Regions from separate parts of the Homo sapiens genome. Here all the other regions are reported to be linked to region 1. The links are microRNA targets in miRTarBase. Many come from high-throughput screens and were not tested one by one. Region 1 holds a microRNA gene; each other region holds the end of a gene's coding sequence.
The links. Region 1 holds the annotated microRNA hsa-miR-3188 (AGAGGCUUUGUGCGGAUACGGGG, at 3,986-4,008, opposite strand). A microRNA usually pairs through its seed, bases 2 to 8, with sites in the 3' UTR of a target mRNA and lowers its output. Matches are read on the target gene's strand: a 7mer-m8 pairs with bases 2 to 8, a 7mer-A1 pairs with bases 2 to 7 and ends in A, and an 8mer does both.

Region 2: the mRNA of SRCAP is a reported target of hsa-miR-3188. Seed matches in the 3' UTR shown: 7mer-m8 at 4,536-4,542.
Region 3: miRTarBase lists IMMP2L as a target of hsa-miR-3188. Seed matches in the 3' UTR shown: 7mer-m8 at 1,329-1,335.
Region 4: miRTarBase lists E2F2 as a target of hsa-miR-3188. Seed matches in the 3' UTR shown: 8mer at 4,576-4,583 and 7mer-m8 at 4,634-4,640.

The regions. Positions count from the first base shown.
Region 1 is chr19:18,281,148-18,286,136 of GRCh38, reverse strand. MIR3188 (microRNA 3188) reads right to left here and starts at 4,060; the gene lies at 3,976-4,060. It overlaps JUND (JunD proto-oncogene, AP-1 transcription factor subunit), which reads left to right and starts at 4,515. Exons shown (of 1, transcript NM_005354.6): 1 at 4,515-4,989. The coding sequence starts at 4,653. It overlaps LOC124904652 (a long non-coding RNA gene), which reads right to left and starts at 4,045. Exons shown (of 2, transcript XR_007067154.1): 1 at 3,007-4,045; 2 at 204-676. It also overlaps the pseudogene RPL39P38. RefSeq lists a silencer at 4,037-4,989 and an enhancer at 4,530-4,989.
Region 2 is chr16:30,739,381-30,744,369 of GRCh38, reverse strand. It overlaps SRCAP (Snf2 related CREBBP activator protein), which reads right to left. Exons shown (of 34, transcript NM_006662.3): 34 at 2,961-4,989. The coding sequence ends at 4,637. It overlaps TMEM265 (transmembrane protein 265), which reads right to left and starts at 3,728. Exons shown (of 3, transcript NM_001256829.2): 1 at 3,663-3,728; 2 at 2,462-2,629; 3 at 1-588. The coding sequence starts at 2,626. The coding sequence ends at 427. RefSeq lists an enhancer at 2,241-3,440.
Region 3 is chr7:110,659,877-110,664,865 of GRCh38, reverse strand. It overlaps IMMP2L (inner mitochondrial membrane peptidase subunit 2), which reads left to right. Exons shown (of 6, transcript NM_032549.4): 6 at 1,145-2,222. The coding sequence ends at 1,264. Among named protein-coding and RNA genes, the nearest start is that of LRRN3, 430 kb to the left of the region's middle.
Region 4 is chr1:23,507,244-23,512,232 of GRCh38, reverse strand. It overlaps E2F2 (E2F transcription factor 2), which reads left to right. Exons shown (of 7, transcript NM_004091.4): 7 at 2,085-4,989. The coding sequence ends at 2,353. Among named protein-coding and RNA genes, the nearest start is that of E2F2, 21 kb to the left of the region's middle.

The DNA of each region.
Region 1 (4,989 bases):
CAGAACAAGACACAGATAAGGGACAGACAGGTCTTAGCCAGATGGAGAGGATTGACGACGGTCCTAGGGGACATGGTCAGGAAGGGTTTCTTGGAGAAGGTGGTGGGTTTTGAAGGATGAGTAGGAGTTCGCCAAGAGTGTAAGGGTATTCCAAGCTGAGAGAACTCAAAACCAAAGAACTGCAGTTACATTTGGGCAAATAATACAATCATAGAAAGCATTTATTGACCCCTTACTATTTGTTTTTTCTTTCTTTTTTTTTTTTTTTTGAGTTGGAGTCTCACTCTGTTGCCCAGGCTGGAGTGCAGTGGCGCGATCTCGGCTCACTGCAACCTCCTCCTCCTGGGTTCAAGTGATTCTCCTGCCTCAGCCTCCCAAGTAGCTGGGACTAAAGGCGTGCGCCACCACACCGGGAGAATTTTTGTATTTTTAGTAGAGACAAGGTTTCACTATGTTGGCCAGGCTGGTCTCGAACGCCTGACCTCGTGATCCACCTGCCTCAGCCTCCCAAAGTGCTGAGATTACAGGCGTGCGCCACCACACCCAGCCTGACCCCTTACTATTTCTTCAAATCCAATAAAAATCGCAATGCTTTTCCTTTCTGCACCATCGTGGTGTGTTCTTGACTCCACTTCTCGCCATATCTTCCTACAAGACTTTCAGGATTAAGCGATTCCTGGACAAGAAACAAAAGCAAAATCGTCCCATTCCCCAGTGGATTTGGATGAAAACTGGAAATAAAATCAGGTACAACTCCAAAAGGACACTGGAGAAGAACCAAGCTGGGTCTATAAGGAATTGCACATGAGATGGCACACATATTTATGCTGTCTGAAGGTCACGATCACGTTAGCATATCAAACTGAAAGTGTCACCACTATCTGGAGAGTTCGACGTGTTTTCCTCTCTGAATCTGTTATGAACGTGTGGGTTGGCTGGGTTCAGTAATAAATATGTGAGGCCTTTCATTTCAAAAAAAAAAATCGCGATACTCCACAAAGTAGGTAGGTTTATTTGCTCAATTTTCATGAAGGAAAAGCTGAGGCTCAGAGAGGTTGACAGGCCTCTGTATCTCACCTGCCTGCCTGCAGGAAAGTGCTCCACTCAGCTCAGGCTGTCTCAGCCTACCATTCACCAGACCATCTCCCCAGCTGCCAAGGCTGAGGCCCAAGTTCAGGGCAGGGCCTCTGTAGGCCGCCCACTCACCTCCTGCCTCAGGGAGAGGCATGACCCCGTCTCCTCCACTCTGGCCCCACTGCACGGGACCCAGAGAGGGGTTCCCAGGGCAGGGCTGGCTACAGGTCTGCGGGCTGGATCTTGTCCCACTAGGGATCTCTTTGTCCAGGATAGAACCTGGGCTAGAGAGCACAGAGACCCATGGATCTGAGTATGTATCTGTGTGTACCTGCGTCTGTCTATACAACACGAATACAGACAGACACAGGTGCACACACAGACACACACTCCAATAGGCAGACAGACACCTTCCTAACCAATCTAGAGACAAAACAAACCCACACCTCCAGTTCCCTGCCCTGGCAATTTGAATCCCAGGCCTGCCAGGCCAGGTCTTTATTATTATTATTATTATTATTATTATTATTATTATTATTATTTTTAAGATGGAGTCTTGCCCTGTTGCCCAGGCTGGAGTGTAGTGGCATGATTTCAGCTCACTGCAACCTCCATCTCCTGGGTTCAAGTGATTCTCCTTTCTCCAGAGCAGCTGGGATTACCGGTGCGCTCCCCATGCCTGGCTAATTTTTGTATTTTTAGTAGAGACAGGGTTTTGCCATATTGGCCAGGCTGGTCTCGAACTCCTGACCTCAGATGACTTGCCCGCCTCAGCCTCCCAAAGTGCTTATTACAGGTGTGAGCCACCTCGCCCAGCCTATTTTTTTTTTCTTCTTTTTTTTTTTTGAGACAGTGTCTCACTCTGTAGCCCAGGCTGGAGTGCAATGGCGCAATCTCGGCTCACTGCAACCTCCACCTCCCGGGTTCAAGCGATTCTCCTGCCTCAGCCTCCCGACTAGCTGGGATTACAGGCACCTGCCACCACACCTGGCTAATTTTTTTTTCTTTTCTTTTTTCTTTTTTTTTTTTGAGACGGAGTCTCGCTCTGTTGCCCAGGCTGGAGTGTAGTGGTGTGATCTCGGCTCACTGCAAGCTCTGCCTCCCGGGTTCATGCCATTCTCCTGCCTCAGCCTCCCGAGTAGCTGGGGACTACAGGCGCCCGCCACCATGCCCGGCTAATTTTTTTTTTTATTTTTCAGTAGAGACAGGGTTTCACCGTGTTAACCAGGATGGTCTTGATCTCCTGACCTCGTGATCAGCCTGCCTTGGCCTCCTAAAGTGCTGGGATGACAGGCGTGAGCCTCTGCGCCCAGCCTAATTTTTATTTTCAATAGAGATGGGGTTTCACCATGATGGTCAGGCTGGTCTCAAACTCCTGACCTCAAATGCCTGCCTCAGACTTCCAAAGTGCTGGGATTACAGGCAGGAGTCACCGCGTGTGGCCGACAGGCCACCTCTCTTGGTGATGAGGACAGCCTCCCTTATGGCCTTCATGCCCCAGTTGGGGGCAGAGCCAGGTGAGTAAGGAGGATAGAAAAGGAGTAACGCATGCCCACTGGCCAGGCAGACAAACTGAGGCTAGAGACCACCCACACAAGCAACCTTTTGTTGCATTCACCTTTATTTTTTATTTTTTTTTGAGACTGGAGTCTCACTCTGTCTCCCAGGCTGGAGTGCAGTGGCACAATCTCAGCTCACTGCAACCTCTGCCTCCCGGGTTCAAGCGATTCTCATGTCTCAGCCTCCTGAGTAGCTGGGATTACAGGTGCACACCACCACACCCGGTTAATTTTCGTATTTTTTTTTTTTTTTGTATTTTTGTATTTCGGCCAGTCTGGTCTTGAACTGCTGACCTCAAGTGATCTGCCTGCCTCGGCCTCCCAAAGTGCTGGGATTACAGGCATGAGCCACCACACCCAGCCCCGCATTCACCTTTAATACTGAGCATCCATTCTATGCGAGGCCCTGTCAGCAGGCTCAGCATAGGCAATGTCCCTGACCTTCAGGGACTATGGTCCACTCCATCATTCTGGCAGATTCAGAGGCTACAATAAAGGAGTAAAGTCTGAGGGTGGGGCACTTCCTGAAGACACATCTTTGCACTGGGGGAAGGGAGTACCAAGCAGAGAGCATAGCACGTGCAAAGGCCCAGAGGTACGATTAGTCCTGCAACTGGGAGGCCAAGGATCAGAGAGAGTGAGGGGAAGGAGGTCAGGGAAAGGAGGGTGTGGGCTCCATTCAGACAGAGGTGGGGAGCTGGAGGGGTGCATGCAGAGGCTGTAGGTCAGATCCAGATGTCCTAAGGATCCCTTGTGAGTATTGGTGGGGTGGGTCCATCTCTCCTCCCTCACACCCCCTTCCCAGCCAGTCTTAATAGTGGCTCATTAAGCCCTAACAGCCATGATAGTGGTAACAAGCATGTAATAATTATACCCGGCATTCCTGCCTCATCAGCCCAGCCCCTGGAGTTGGGCACCCTCGCCCAGGACATCACAGCCCTGGCAGACCTGGGGTTAAAACGTGGGCGGCGGAAGGAAGGGGCTGCGCAGGGGCCTGGACTCCCAGGTTCTAGGGTTCTAAGGGTGGACAAGAGCTCAGGCCTAGTCACAGCCCGGGCCCTGCTGTGACTCCTAGCTAACTCTCGGGGGATGGTCACTCCACCTCTCTGAGCCCAGTTTCCCATCTGTAAAGGCAGGAAGTAGGACTCCTGGTTCTAGAACGCACTCAGTGAAAATGATCAGGATCCAAGCGCTTTCAGCAACTTCTGGCGACCCTCCTCTCCCCTCCCGTCTCTTCCTGAGCAATCACACGCGGGGTGGAGGGAGGGAGGGAAGGAAGGAGGGAGGGTGAGGAACGCAGACCTCCCCACACCCCCGGCGAGCCCCCGGACACAGCCCCACCAGGCCTCCAGCCCCGTATCCGCACAAAGCCTCTCCAGAAGGCGCGCTAGGGGAGGCCCTGGCGGCACAGCAGAGCAGGAGGCGCCAAGGAGTTATTTAGCCATGCGGGACCCCATCCCCCTCCAGTCCCCGGAGGCCGGCACCGCCCCCGCCCCCGCCCCCGCCCGGCCGGGGCCCCACGCGCGGACACGGGGCGGGGCCTCGGGGCGGGCGGGCGCCTGGTGGCCCGGGCCCATCACGCCACCCGGGACGTGCCTTGGCGGAGGCGGCGCCGGGGAGATCGGTCGTACACAGCGGTCCCGGGGCGGGGTGACCCGGCCCGGGCGCGCGGCCGCCCCCATGACGTCAACCCACAAGGCAGCGCGCTGTTGTGGCGTTTACCGCGCGTCGCCGGGGCAACGGCGGCCGGGCGGGCGTCGGCGGCTTGGCCCCGCCCCTCCATGCAAATGAGCGACGTCACCCGCACCCAATGGCGAACGGGGGCGGTGAGCTCATCGCGCCGAGCCGAGGCTATAAGAGGGCGCACAAGTGGCGCGGCGCAGGAGCCGCCGCCAGTGGAGGGCCGGGCGCTGCGGCCGCGGCCGGGGCGGGCGCAGGGCCGAGCGGACGGGGGGGCGCGGGCCCCCCGGGAGGCCGCGGCCACTCCCCCCCGGGCCGGCGCGGCGGGGGAGGCGGAGGATGGAAACACCCTTCTACGGCGATGAGGCGCTGAGCGGCCTGGGCGGCGGCGCCAGTGGCAGCGGCGGCAGCTTCGCGTCCCCGGGCCGCTTGTTCCCCGGGGCGCCCCCGACGGCCGCGGCCGGCAGCATGATGAAGAAGGACGCGCTGACGCTGAGCCTGAGTGAGCAGGTGGCGGCAGCGCTCAAGCCTGCGGCCGCGCCGCCTCCTACCCCCCTGCGCGCCGACGGCGCCCCCAGCGCGGCACCCCCCGACGGCCTGCTCGCCTCTCCCGACCTGGGGCTGCTGAAGCTGGCCTCCCCCGAGCTCGAGCGCCTCATCATCCAGTCCAACGGGC
Region 2 (4,989 bases), not on the chromosome of region 1:
TGCTGGCTTCTGCTATCAGTCAGATGTCCAGTCTGGCTCTCACCAAGGGCCCAAGGGAAAGCAGGAGGAGAACAATTAGACAGGAGTATTTCACCACTAAAAAAGGCTTTTATTACAAAATGAATTCTAATAAAACCAGGCCTGGTCTTCAACCCCTCCCGCTGGGTAGAGGCCCTAGGGTGGGCTAGGGTAGGGGAGATGGGGGTGGGGGGCCCTGAAAGAACAGAGCAGGCTGCCCTCCTCTCATCAGTCTCAGCTGCTGCCCTCCTTTTATAAAGGGCTAGAAGAGCTCTTCCAAAGCCCCTTGAGAGAGTCCCCATCCTTCCAACCAGGATCCTTCCAACCACTGCTGTCACAGGACCTTAGCAATGCCGCATTGCAGGATCCAGGAGGTCTCGGCTGGCTCTCAGCAGAGGCCATCCAGGGTCACTCAGCCTGAGCGATGGCGTAGGAGAGCAACCACAGCAGCAGGGGACCCAGAATGAGGACAGCAAGCCAGACAGCAAAGCTGGCCAGGATGAGTTTCCGGGCCCGGGCCCCCCAGCGCACTGCCTCCTCGGACCGGCCTGCTTTATGCCGCTCTTCCGCCTGTGGGGGCAGGTTCTTGGTTAGGTTCTCCCCCTGCTTCTGCCCCAAGGTGCCCATTTCCCCACTCCGCTCCCCCTTCCCTGTCACGGATCAAAATCTCACATCCAAACCCTCTACCTCCCTTTCCAGTTTCTGATTCTAACCTCTCATCTGCAAAATAAGGTACCCATCTCTGGGCCCTGCCTACTTCTCAGGGTGGCCATAGCTCACAAGATCGCCTATGGGAAAGTACTTTCCAATTCTGTTATTCCCCATTCTTTCCAACTATCCAAGATTGATTCAGAATTTGTAACTATTGGCAAGAAACAGTGAGGCTAGAGTAACTTCACTCATGCCCAAACACCACCTCATTCTCATAGCCCAATGGGCCTCATCTTTTCCATCTTTTTTTTTTCTTTTTTTGAGACAGTTTCACTCCTGTCACCCAGGCTGGAGTGCAGTGGTGCAATCTCACTGCAACCTCCTCCTCCCAGGTTCAAGCAATTCTCGTGTCTCAGCCTCCCAAATAGATGGGATAACAGGTACGTGCCACCACGCCCAGCTAATTTTGTATTTTTAGTAGAGACGGGGTTTCACCATGTTGGTCAGGCTGGTCTCGAACTCCTGACCTCAAGTGATCTGCCCACCTCGGCCTCCCAAAGTGCTGGGATTACAGGCGTGAGCCACTGCGCCCAGCCTCTTTGTTATCATTAAGGGCCCTTTTTAGGATTTTGCCCTAATGGAACCCAGGAGTTCTTACAGTTTCTGACTGTTAAAATATGTCTAGGGTTGAGAAGATTCCAGCATGAAGTTTAAGTTAGCCTGTGTAGCCTTTCCTAAAGGACATGTGCTGTTTTTTTTTGTTTTTTTTTTTTTTTGAGACAGAGTCTTGCTTTGTCACCAGGCTGGAGTGCAGTGGCATGATCTCAGCTCAATGCAACCTCCGACTCCGTGGTTCAAGCAATGATCCTGCCTCAGCCTCCCCAGTAGCTGGGATTACAGGCACGCACCATCACGCCCAGCTAATTTTTGTATTTTTAGTAGAGACGGGGTTTTACCATGTTGGCCTAGATGGTCTCGATCTCCTAACCTCGTGATCTGCCCACCTCGGCCTCCCAAAGTGCTGGGATTACAGGCCTAAGTCACCACGCCCGGCGGACATGTGCTGTTTCTAATAGGCTTTTTGAAATGGTGAAGCCCTCTCAAAAACCCAAGTGTCTTTCAGACTCCTAGAGATTGCGCTCATCACCGTTCAGCGGCCTCCAGCCTTGCCCCCTCCAATTCACCCTCGATGTAGGCCTTGAGAGTGGATCTTCCTAAAACTCAAATCTGACCATGTCACTTTCCCCTGCAGGAGCCATTCAATGCCTCCCCAGTACTTTCAAGATAAAGTCAAAACTCTTAAGCACAGAACTGGAGGCCCTTGGGAATCTGGGTCCTCTAGCTTCATCTCTCACTATTCCTCACTGGTCCAGTCATGCTCCACAGGCCTTTGTACACACTGCTCCTTTTATCTGGAATGCCCTTCCACACTTACTCACTCACCCTTTAAGATTAATCCTGTCACCTCTCCTAGGATGCCTTTCCAGTCACCTATTCTACCATATACACATATATAATTACATACATAGATCTTCCCTGGCTCCCACACTGTCCTGTGCTTCCTGTATTACGGTACTGATGAACTGCATTCTATTAATTACCCATTTTCACTGTCACCTCTTTCATTAGATTATGGGTCCTCTGACGACAAGGAACCCTGTCTTATTCTTATTTCTGGCACTAGGCCCAGAGCACTGATAGGTATTCAGTGACTGGTCAATGTAGATAGATCAGATACATGAAACCATTGCCTTATACCCACCCCCATTCCCATGGGAATTGCACTCCTCACCTTGATGGCAAACACCAGAGCCATGACTCCCAGGCAAGAGCAGCCACAGATAATGCTAGTAGCTGCCAAGCAGCGGAGGCGGAGCCAGCAGCAGCGGATGGGGGATGGAGGATGAGCAGCTTCCGTGTTGCCCAAGATCTCCACTGCCTTCTCCTCGTCCTCCATCACCTGTGGGCGATAGTCAAGGTACTTGTGAGCCCAACAACAGAGCCCTTGGCCTTGCTTGCTCAGACTCCACCCCTCTCAGAGCATTCTGTTCTCATGGCCTAGCCTGGCACTCAGGAATGTTGCCTTACTGGGGAATTCCTCTAGTGACTCACAGAGCAGGAGAGGAAATGTGTGGCTGGAATCCTTTTACCTAAGCTTGAGGTTCTGAGTCTTTGAAAGCAAGCCAGTGTAGACAAGGCATTATCTGTATTATTTAGTGTTTCAACAAGTGGGAAGAAGCCAAATGACAGGTGCACACCGAGAAGGAGGAAAAATACAAACTCTTGAAAGCTGCTATGAATCTGTTATTTTAATCTGTATTTCAAAGGACTCTACAATTCCCCCAAATTCCCAAGAGGCTGCCCCCTGAGTATTATAGATGTCAGAGAGCAGGACCCTAGGTACTGCAACCCGTTTCAAGCAAAGCAGCCATTTTACATGAAAACAGTTATGGGAATGGAGAAAGGTAAGGAAAATGTACCCAAGTAAGCCCTTTATTACCACTAAAACCAAACATCAGAAAGACTTTACTTCCCTAAGTCAGGGCTTCCTCTGCTATGCTGCCTCCCTGCCACCTCCTCTCTCCAATTTAACCCAGGCCACATAACACAATCAGACTAGTACACTGAGTCTAAATGACCTCATTACCACACAGAAACCTGCAAAATGATGCCCTACTTAATCATTTCTTGTCTCCCTACTTCTCAGGTCCTCTAGGCCCTGGCATCAAACCACCTTTCTACCCTTATCTCCAACCATTCCCCTACAACCCAGACAAAATGAAACCACCTTGGCTCCCTGAACCCAAGTAACGAAGGATAGGAAAGGTGAAAGGGGCGAGACAAGTAGAGAGCAAAGAATGATGTGTGCCAAGAAGCTGCAGGGAAGTAGATACAAAGAAATAACTCAGATGAGGTAAGCACAGAGTCAACAGGAGGACACAAGGAGGGCCCAGGGAGTGAACAGAGAATGTAAAAATGAACAGGGCTCTTACCTGGCTATAGGCCTTGAAGGACTCTGAGTTTCGGCTCCTGCCTCAGCTTTGGTTTGGCTTGGGTGGTGATGGAGCTGACTCAGGGCTCCAAGCCAAGCCCAGGGGTGGGGTTGAGTGGCCAGCCACCACGTGAAGAGCCCAGGGAGCTGGGAAGGGGTGTGGCTGACTCAAACCAGTTTGGCTAGATGAAGAGCAGGGGAGGGCCCAAGGGATGGAGCAACTGGAGCTAGGACGCCTGCCCTCTGGAAAAAGTTGTGAAAGGAAGCACCTGAGCAAGAGGGATAAAAGGGAAAGGTCTGAGGCATCAAAGAGCTCCGAGGAACGTCTAGGAACCGAGGGAAAAGAAATGAGAGGAAAAGGATATCTGTGACTTCAAACTGACTGGGGAAAGGCACCCTACCACATCAAATTCACCAATCTTCCCTCTTCTTGGGTAGATTTCTGCCTGGAACATATAGTCCTGGGCTAGAGATCAGGTGCTAGGATCTTTGCAAGAACAAGAGGGAGGAGAAAAACGATGCCCAAGTTCCCACCCAACCCTCCACCAGACCAGAAAATCAGAAGCCTCCTTACGCGGATGCTCATACAGAAACTAAGTTTATTATTTTTTCTTCTTAAAAAAAAAAAAAAAAGAAAAAAACCTCATTGTAGAGAAGCCCCTCCCCCTTCCCCTAAGGGTGGGGGGCTGTGTGAAAGACAGCTGGGGAATCAAGTACAAGGGGGTGGGGACAGAGACTATCTTGCCACCCTTAACACTGCCCAGCCACGTGGGGTGAAGGGGAAGGGGACTGTGATGATCCCCATTTCCATGACAACCAGTTGCCTACCCCCTACTTTGGTGGGAAGAAGGGAGAAGGCCCCTATGTCTCCCTGGAGGCTTTCCCCCTCAAGACTTCAAGTAGTGGTTAACAGAGTCAGGCCTGGTCATGGAGGGAGTGGCCACGGTGGAAAGCCTAGGTGGAGGGGCAGCCCACTCACGTCTTGGCCTTGCGGCCTCTGTGACTAACAGCAGGGCCAGCCAGGGAGGGAGGGGCGCTGCTGCGCAGGATGCGCTGGTCCCCTTGGTTGGTGGTCCCAACAAGCCGGCGGGGGCCAGGACGTCGGCGTGGGGTCCCATCCCCTTCCTCCTCCTCACCTGAGGCTTCAGCCTCAGACTCCTCTACTGAACCCTCAGGCCCCAGGGGACTTGGGGGCTGTAGGCGGCCCCGCTTTGCCAGCCCAGGACTCCCACCAACTGGGGCCCCTGCTCGTTTGCGAGGCAACTTCTCAGTCTCTAGTGGGGGGACTAGAGACCCTGGACGCAGCCGGGTCGAGCGCAGTTTTGGGG
Region 3 (4,989 bases), not on the chromosome of region 1:
GTGGAAGTCCAGTTTATAGGAAAAACATTTGAAAATAAAATGGTAAATAAAGTGGACATATAGTATTACTTTATAACCGGCACTCAGTAAATATGTGCTAAATATGAGTGTATTTTGTAAGCTTCTAAATACCATTAAAATATCACCTGATAGTAACTATAACAACAACAATTTTTTTAAAAACACAGATTTCCAGGCCCTCCTTCAGACCTGTTGAAGGGTAATCTCTTAAGATAAGACCCTGATCTGCCTTTTAAACAAGTTTGCTATGTTCTCCTGTTCACCGAAATTGATGTCTTTAAGATTTAAGATGTTTAAGGGCTCCCTTCCTGTCTTTGGGCTCAGCCTTAAGTCCTCCCCCTCACCTCCTCTTCCATCCTCGCCAATCTCTGCTCTCCTCTGCTGATGGGGATTCTTTACCATCTGCCATGATCTGTATACTTTATTATTTTTCCTTGCTACCCATCCCACCTTGTTTGCTTTCTCTTTGTTTTCCACCTCTCTCCATGAGTACTAGATCCGTGTTACTCAGTGTACTCTCCATGGAGACAGCCCACCCAGTCTCACACCTAACTCCTGCTGCTCATCTAGTAGGTGGGACAATGTTTTTCACAAAATATATATATTTTTTAGGACTCTGTGATTTTTCCATAAAGAAAGTCTCTCTAGGATACCAATGACTCTGCGGGAAACTCTGAGAATATACGCCAGATTTATGCTTCCTGGGTCTATGCAAATAGGCTCTTGAGGCTAATGGTTAAGATGGTGGACTCGAGTCAAACTGCTTGGTTCTAAACACAGACTAACCGCTTGGTAGCTGTATGAATTTTGGCAAATTTTTTAACCTCTTTGAGCTTTGCTTTCTCATTTCTAAAAGGGAAATACTAACAGAACCTACTTCAAATGGTTTTTGTGAGGATTAAAGGAGTTTATATACAATAGCACCTAGAAAAATGCTATATAAGTGCTTACTGTATTTTTCTTTGTATTTCAATGGCTACAAAAGGTGTTTACTATTTTTTTTATTCATCATCACTTCTCCCTGGGATGTTAAACCTGGATTAAATTCTGCTTTCAAGCTATTAATAATGATTCTTATAAAATGATCTCTTTATTGCTTTCTTTCTGTTTCTCATGAATTAAGGTTTCCCTAGGACTTCTGCATGCCCATGCCACACATATCCTGTGGCCCCCAGAGCGCTGGCAGAAATTGGAATCTGTTCTTCCTCCAGAGCGCTTACCAGTACAGAGAGAAGAGGAATGACTGCATGAATCTACCTGAGTTGCTGGCATTGGGAGGCCAGTTACTGGAAAGGAATGGAAAAAAGAAGCCTCCAAAAGGGAAAAACTTCTGACAATATGATGCTGTGCGAGAAATATTTACAGCACATTAAAACGATCTGTATTATTAAATAAATAATTTTCAAATGTTAAACAGTATTAAATGGCACCTGATTTTGTGTTAAATTTTAGTTCCCTGTTGTTTAATGCCCCCAAAATATGCAGACCTTTGGGAATATAAAAATATTGCACCCACATGTCTTAATGGGGCTGAATTTCAGATTATTTGTTACATATACTTATTATATTGATTGTTGGGTTTTGATTTTGGTGCTTGCTGCTGAAATAAATTGAAAATTAATATTCAATAAAAATGATGTATTTGTCACTTGCTGTTAAGGTAGAACAAGAAGGAACACATATTATACACATAATGATGGGAATTACATTGTGATTTGTACTATCTACAAAGGAGTAACTGCCAGTTAGGAAGAACAGTAAACAGTGATGTTAAAATAAAACAATGATTTGCTAAGGTCCTGTTTTGAGTATTTAATTCTCATTGAGTACATCCATTAATGAGGAATTTCTTATCTCTTCTGAAAATAAGGAATCAAAGTAATGGAGAACCCATTCTGTCGACACTTGCATACAGTCAAGCCTTTCTTATTGGCCCTTTGTAATCCAACATTTCTGAGTGATCTCATGCCTATTCACAATGATGGGTAAACCCCTTTATCCGCATTTAGTCATACTATGTGTTTAAAAGTTCTGAGTGAAATAGAAGAAAAAACAGTCCAGATCAGCCACGTTTGATTTTCTTCCCCTAATTATTTCTCAGTATTCACGTCTGTAATACTGAAATCACCAATTGCAAAGTTACAGTAGAATCATAGAGTCTGTAATTTGTATGGATAATGGAATAAATTCCCTGCATCTAAGTCCATGTTTATGAAAGCTTCTTTTTCTCCCATTGGTTAGAGGTTTGTGTAAATTATTATTAGCATAATCATATTCAACAAATATTAATGAGCACTTACATACTAATGTTGGACAGAATTTTTTTTAAAACAGATCTGCTTAAAATTTTTCTGTGGCTCTTCATTGCCCTTCTCAATTCTTCAGTTCCATTTTCTCTTTTCCCCAACTCGAACTTCATACCCTGGCTTTTAACTGCAGTTTACCAAATACTGCTATTTCAAAGCTTGTAATTTTTTTCTTTCTTGGCAAAGTGCATCCCTTGGAATTATGTGTAAAATGTTTAGTACATAAGGGTATTGACTCTTTACTTGCTGGAACACAGGAGGGTCTATGGGTCATATAGGAGGGGATTGGGAGTACTGAGGGGAGGTAGAGTAAAGAACAAATAGACAGGTGCTGGTAGTGACTGCTATTTACCACTGGTATAGAAGAGTTCAATATTTTAACAGTTTACCCCATTGGCTATCAGCCTTGCTACCTTATTGACTACCCGTGCCATTGTTACTCGAACTATTCATTCAAGATTGTATATCTTTGGAGGGAAGGTAAATGCTCTTTCTATTCAATTTTCTATTCACTAGCCATCCAGCACATCACCAGCAGAGTTAATGCCTAATGCTTGTTGAACAGCTCAGCTGACTAGTTACTTCCTCAGGAATACATCCCCAGGCAAAGTCACTGCTCTACCTGGTATATACCTTCATTAATGTATCACTCTGCATGTTAATGATTCGTGTACATACTTTCTCCCCTACTAGACTGTGAACTAGTAGTCTAATCTAGAGCAGGGTTTATCTTGCTCAACTTGGTCATACGATTGCTCATAATTGACAATAAAATCCTGTCCAATCAATGTATGAATCCTAGGCACTGTGTTAAGGACAGGAAAATCAAAGTAGATAAAACAAAGGTTCTCATAGTCGACTGGTGGGGGCAGGAGGAACTGTAAAGAGGCAAAGAGTTAACATACAATTCCGCAGTAGGTATAGAGCATGGAATAGGTGCAATGGGAGCAGAAAGGGCTGTAAATCTGATTGTGCCTGGGGAAATAGGGATGGGAGAAACCACCACAGGAGGGGTGCCACGGGCTGAGCCTTCTAGGATGAATGGAGTTCCCCTCCTGTGAATTATAAATTTAATCTGTATAAACGATTTCAGTTACTTAAATAGTTTCCTCTCAAACATTACTGCTAGTTTACTGTTCAGGGTGTAGTGTGTGTATTATGTTTTATACATTTAATTTGTAAAATGTGAAATAATGATTGTACCTCAGGAATATTGAGATTTGTAATTAATTTTTTTTCACTTTTTACAACAGTCATTTCAAACAATTTTACCAAGTAACTTATAAAAATGTGTTATATATCGGATGTTCCAAGATGGCCAAATAAGAACAGTTGCAGTCTACAGCTCCCAGCATGAGCAATGCAGAAGATGGGTGATTTCTGCATTTCCAACTGAGGTACTGGGTTTCTCTCACTGGGACTTGTCGGACAGTGGGTGCAGCCAACAGAGCAGGGCGGGCATCGCCTCACCCAGGAAGTGCAAGGAGTCAGGGAATTCCCTTTCCTAGCCAAGGGAAGCCATGACAGATGATACCTGGAAAATCGGGACACTCCCACCCTAATACTACGCTTTTCCAATGGTCTTAGCAAATGGCACACCAGGAGATTATATCCTGCGCCTGGCTCACAGGGTCCCATGCCCACAGAGCCTCGCTCACTGCTAGCATGGCAGTCTGAGATCGAACTGCAAGGTGGCAGCAAGGCTGGGGGAGGGGCGTCCACAATTGCTGAGGCTTGAGTAGGCAAACAAAGCAGCTGGGAAGCTCGAACTGGGTGGAGCCCACTGCAGCTCAAGGAGGCCTGCCTGCCTCTGTAGACTCCACATCTGGGGGCAGGGCATAGCTGAACAACAGGCAGCAAAAACTTCTGCTGGCTTAAACATCCCTATCTGACAGCTTTGAAGAGAGTAGTGGTTCTCCAAGCACAGAGGTTGAGATCTGAGAACGGACAGACTGCCTCCTCAAATGGGTCCCTGACCTCCGAGGAGCCTAACTGGGAGACACCTCCCAGTAGGGGCCGACTGACACCTCAAACAGCTGGGAGCCCCTCTGAGATGAAGCTTCCAGAGGAAGGATCAGGCAGCAACATTTGCCGTTCTGCAATATTTGCTGTTCTATAGCCTCCACTGGCGATACCCAGGCAAACAGGGTCTGGAGTGGACTTCCAGTGAACTCCAACAGACCTGTAGCTCACGGTCCTGACTGTTAGAAGGAAAACTAATAAACAGAAAGGAAATCCACACCAAAACCCCATCTGCACATCACCATCATCAAAGACCAAAGGTAGATAAAACCAAAAAGATGGGGAGAAACCAGAGCAGAAAAGCTGAAAATTCTAAAAATCAGAGCAGCTCTTCTCCTCCAAAGGAACACAGCTCCTCGCCAGCAATGGAACAAAGCTGGATGGAGAATGACTTTGATGAGTTGAGAGAAGAAAGCTTCAGACGATTGGTAATAACAAACTTCTCCAAGCTAAAGGAGGATGTTCAAACCCATCGCAAAGAAGCTAAAAACCTTGAAAAAAGATTAGACAGATGGCTAACTAGAATAAACAGTGTAGAGAAGACCTTAAATGACCGGATGGAGCTGAAAACCATGGCACGAGAAATAACTTAATGCATGCACAAGCTTCAGTAGCCAATTTGATCAAGTGGAAAAAAGGG
Region 4 (4,989 bases), not on the chromosome of region 1:
TTATTTGTTTGTTTATTTATTTATTTTTATTTTGAGACACGAGTCTCGCTCTTGTTGCCCAGGCTGGAGTGCAGTGGCGTGATCTTGCCTCACTACAACCTCCACCTCCTGGGTTCCAATGATTCTCCTTCCTCAGCCTCCCTATTAACTGGGATTACAGATGCCTGCCACCATACCCAGCGAATTTCTGTATTTTTAGTAGAGACGGTGTTTCACCATGTTGGCCAGGCTGGTCTCGAACTCCTGACCTCAGGTGATCTGCCTGCCTCGCCCTCCCAAAGTGCTGGTATTATAGGCATGAGCCACCGCACCAGGCCAAACCAGTGCTTCATATGCACTTACCATGCGGTCCTCTGAGCAACCCTTTGAGGTAGGTAGTGCTATGCTGCCCCATGCAGAGGGGAGAAAATGGATGCTCTAAAACGTGAAGTCCAGAGCAAGACTCCATCTCAAAATAAATTAAATAAATAAATAAAATGTGAAATCACATGCCTATGGGTGCACCACCAGTCTCAACAGGCAGCCTAGCATCCCAGCGCAGTTGTATCTTCAGAATAATACTTGGCTGGGGCTTAAGGAGTGACTGCAATGTGGGGGATTCTGAGCATCAGGATATATGTGGCAGGCAATTTCCAGTGCTTCATTGCATGTCCCTGTATGGGAAATCACCGTCTTAACATCTAAGTGGAAATGAGCAGGTTGGGTGTGGTGGCTCATGTCTGTAATCCCAGCACTTTGGGAGGCTGAGGCAGGAGGATTGCTCGAGCCTGGGAGTTCGAGACCAGCCTGGGCAACAGAGTGAGACCCTGTCTCTACAAAAAAGTTTAAAAATTGGATGGGCATGGTGGCACGCACCAGTGGTCCCAGCTACTCAGGAGGCTGAGGCGAGAGGATTGCTTGAGCCCAGAAGGTTGAGGCTGCAGTGAGCCGTGTTCACCCTACTGCACTCTGTACTCTAGCTTGGGCAAGACCCTGTTTCAAAAAAAAAAAAAGAAGGCGGCGAGAAAGAAATGAGCATAGAGTGCTGGAGAATGGCTACTGAAAGGTCAAATAAGATGAAGCCAGAGAAATGACCATTGGGTTTAGCAGCATGGATGTCACTGGCTCAGGGACATGGTGGGGAGAGACCCCAGACTGGAGTGAGTTGAAGAGAGAATAGTAATAGGGAAGTGGAGACAAGCTGAGGCTACTCTGGAGAAAGTTTACTGTGCAAAGGAGCAGAAAAATGGGCCAGTAATTGGAGAGGGTGATGAGGTCAGGTATAGTTGTGTGTGGTGGAGAGTAGAGGCAACATAACAAAAATTTACCATCATAACTATTTTTAAATGTACAGTTCAGTGGTAATTAATACATTCATAATGTTGTGTAACCATCACCATTCATCTCCATAACTCCTTTCACCTTGTAAAACTGAAACTCTGTACCTATTCCCCATTCCCCTCTCTGCCCAGCCCCTGACAACCACCCTTCTACTCTCTGTCCCTGCGATTTTGACTAAGTATCTAATGTAAGTGGAATCACACAGTATTTGTTTTTTTGTGATTGGCTTATTTCACATAGTTTAATGTCCTCAGGGTTCATCTATGTTGTAGCATGTGTCAGAATTTCTTTCCTTTTTGGCCGGGCACAGTGGCTCAGGCCTGTAATCCCAACACTTTGGAAGGCCGATCACTTGAGGTCAGGAGTTCGAGACCAGCCTGGCCAACATGGTGAAACCCCATCTCTACTAAAAATACACAAATTAGCTGGGTGTGGTGGTGCATGCCTGTAGTCCAGCTACTCGGGAGGCTCAGGTGGGAGAATCGCTTGAACCTGGGAGGCAGAGGTTGCAGTGAACCAAGATCACAACACTGCACTCTAGCCTGGGTGATAGAGTGAGACCCGGTCTCAAAAAAATAAAAAATACATGAAAAGTTGTAGGGTTGGGTGTAGACTCTGGAAGGTGGATTTTGAGAGCACGACAGTCCACCCAGGCTAAGGAGAGAGAAGAAGGGTGCAGTCATCCAGAGAACCGGAAGTCTGTCCTCGCGTGCTGAGGAGTTGGATGCTAGGGCCAGGCGTAACCTTTGTCTGTTTGTCTCCAGTGCCAGCACCAGCGCCAACCCCCCAGCAGGCCCCACCGCCTCCATCCCTGGTCCCCTTGGAGGCTACTGACAGCCTGCTGGAGCTGCCGCACCCACTCCTGCAGCAGACTGAGGACCAGTTCCTGTCCCCGACCCTGGCGTGCAGCTCCCCTCTGATCAGCTTCTCCCCATCCTTGGACCAGGACGACTACCTGTGGGGCTTGGAGGCGGGTGAGGGCATCAGCGATCTCTTCGACTCCTACGACCTTGGGGACCTGTTGATTAATTGAGTGGCCCTGCCTGCCCCCAGCAGCCTGCCCCCGACTCTACCTCCTCACAGACAGGCTGACAGCCCCTCTGCCTGCACAGGGACATTGGACACTAGGTGCTGCCCTCAGGGCATGGGGTCTCCTCGCCTTTCCTGCCCCAGCCGGCAGAAGCTGTGTGGGGAGATATGAATGGTACGGGTGAGGAGTGGATAAGGGGTGGTCCTCACCTTCCTAATGGAAGCTGGGCCTAGGGAGGCCCATCCAGTCTTCTGACTTCTGACCTCTCACAAGAAGGCTGCAGGTGAGGTGGCCAAGTCCAGGGAAAGGCCCTGCTACCTCCTTTTGAGGGGTAATTAGGACCCTCGACGTACCAAGAAGCACATAATGCCTTTGTATTTATTTCAGGTTGAGTTGTTTGTTTGTCCTCCCTGAGTTTTAGCAGGGAGGTTGTTCTAGTTTTTAGTGAGACCTCTGCAGACAGGCCCATCACTGTCCATGTTCCAGGGCAGGTCTGGGTTTCCAAGGGAGGGGCCCAGGCTACATCCTTGGTTTCCCCACTGTGGTGGGGGCTGGGACTCTGAGGGGCTGTCCAGTCTGCTAGAATGCTAATTGCACTTAGGCCTCATGGTTCTAGTAAACGGCAGCTGTGGGCCCTTTTGCCTCTTCCCCTGTTCTTGGCCTCACATCTCCAGCTGAGCTGCCGGTCTTGGCTTCCTGGTCGCCTCTGTCCCAGAGATGGTCCCAGGGAGCCATCCTAGGGCAGGTAGCACTGAGGCTCCTGTGGAAACAGGAGCCACCTGCTCAGGAGACCCCTTTCCTGAGGAAGTCCTTACCTCTCCCCTTGAGATGTAAAAATGGTCCAGCAGAGACAAGCTCCCGTGGAAAACAGACAGGAGCATGGGGGCAGCTGTCATGGCTGTGGCGGGCACTTTTCCTCAGAGTTTCTGCCTTGCGCTGGTCCAGGAGCCATTTTGCACCAAGGACTTGGTAGGCAGAGGCAGCCCCACTGTAAAGAAGGGTCAGATTAAAACAAAAAACTGCCAAAAGCATCCCCTCTGCCCCCCATGTGGCACTGGCATCATTCTCTGCTTCCCTGGGAGGAATTTTTTCACCATGTTATTGAAGGGGATGGTTCATTAAGGACTCCACCCCTCAGAGCTCACTCAGACCCCAAGGACAGAGGTGACTGGGGCTTGGTGACTTGTTCACTCCTTTTTTCCCAGGTATACTGAAGGGGTGACAGAGAGAGGTCTTCATGGCAGACCAGGCCTTCACAGCTAATGGGGAGAGGAACTCATGTTACCTCTGCAGGCCTGGGGTCCTGAGGGGGTCTTTTGGCTTCAGCCTGTTCCCCCAGAGGCTTGATCATCCCACATTGTCCCTTCAGCTCAGCTGCTCTTCTCCCCCACCCACCCTGGGATGTGGGTGCTCTGGGCTGAACCAAGGCTATGACTTCTGGAGAGAGGCTCAGGGGTTGGTCTGAGAGGCCTGCCATCCACCCCTCAGGGAGCTAGGTTTTCTCAGAGGCTCAGCTGGACAGCACTTTTTAGAAAAGTTTGTAGCATTAAGCTGGTTTAAAATATGAAGTTGGTTTTGTTGGATGGCTCCTGAGCTGACTGACTGATGTCTGAAGTTTGAGACGAGGGATTATTTCAGGGTGGGGCCCAATGTGATCTAATGCCCAGCTGGGGACAATTGTGCCTCATCATTTGCTCAAATTCCTGGGCCCCCAAGTTAGCCCCCTCCCAGGAGTGGTCAGCGGGTCACAGCTGCCCCCACTCTATAAGCAGGGCTAATTGTGTACCCTTTGCAGAAATGCTTTTGGTCTCCTACCCAAATACTCACAAGGGTCTTATCAGACGCCCGTCTTAAAGTCCAGCATGCTCAGGGACCCTGTGTAGGATCTCGTTTGTGGTGAGTGGGCTGCTCTGAGGTCTCCACTGGGCTGCCATTTAGCCATGTGCCATCTCTGAAGTCAGAGGTGTTTGACTCCCATTCCTTGGGCTCTGGAGCTTTCCCCAAGAATTACATCAGAGAAAAGGAAGAAGGGGCCTGCAGGACCCATTGGGAATGAGTTTAATACTGAAGTCTGGAATGTAAGCTCATGCCCTAGAGGCCTCTCCATATGGCTGGTCAGGGGAGCTGCCTTCAGGCTTGTGCCCCGTGTGCTCAGCAGCTGCCTCTGTCCCCCTCTACTGTCCCTTTCACACCTTGCCTGGCCAAGGGGCTAGACCTCCCAGGCTAAGCCTCAGATTCAGTGCAGGACACAAGCTCATGCCCCCGTCTTGCCAGTGACACTTGAAGCCTCCCGACTTCCACAGAGTGCTTCAGGACACATTTTGAGTGGTATTTTCTTTTCTTTTTTTCTTCTTTTTTTTTTTTTTTGAGATGGAGTCTCGCTCTGTTGCCCAGGCTGGAGTGCAGTGGCCTGATCTCGGCTCACTGCAACCTCTGCCTCCCAGGTTCAAGCGATTCTTCTGCCTCAGCCTCCAGAGTAGCTGGGACTATAGACATGCACCACCACGCCCGGCTAATTTTGTATTTTTGGTCGAGACGGGGTTTTGCCATGTTAGTCAGGCTGGTCTTGAACTCCTGACCTCAAGTGATCCACCACCTCGGCCTCCCAAAGTGTTGAGATGACAGGCACGAGCCACCAG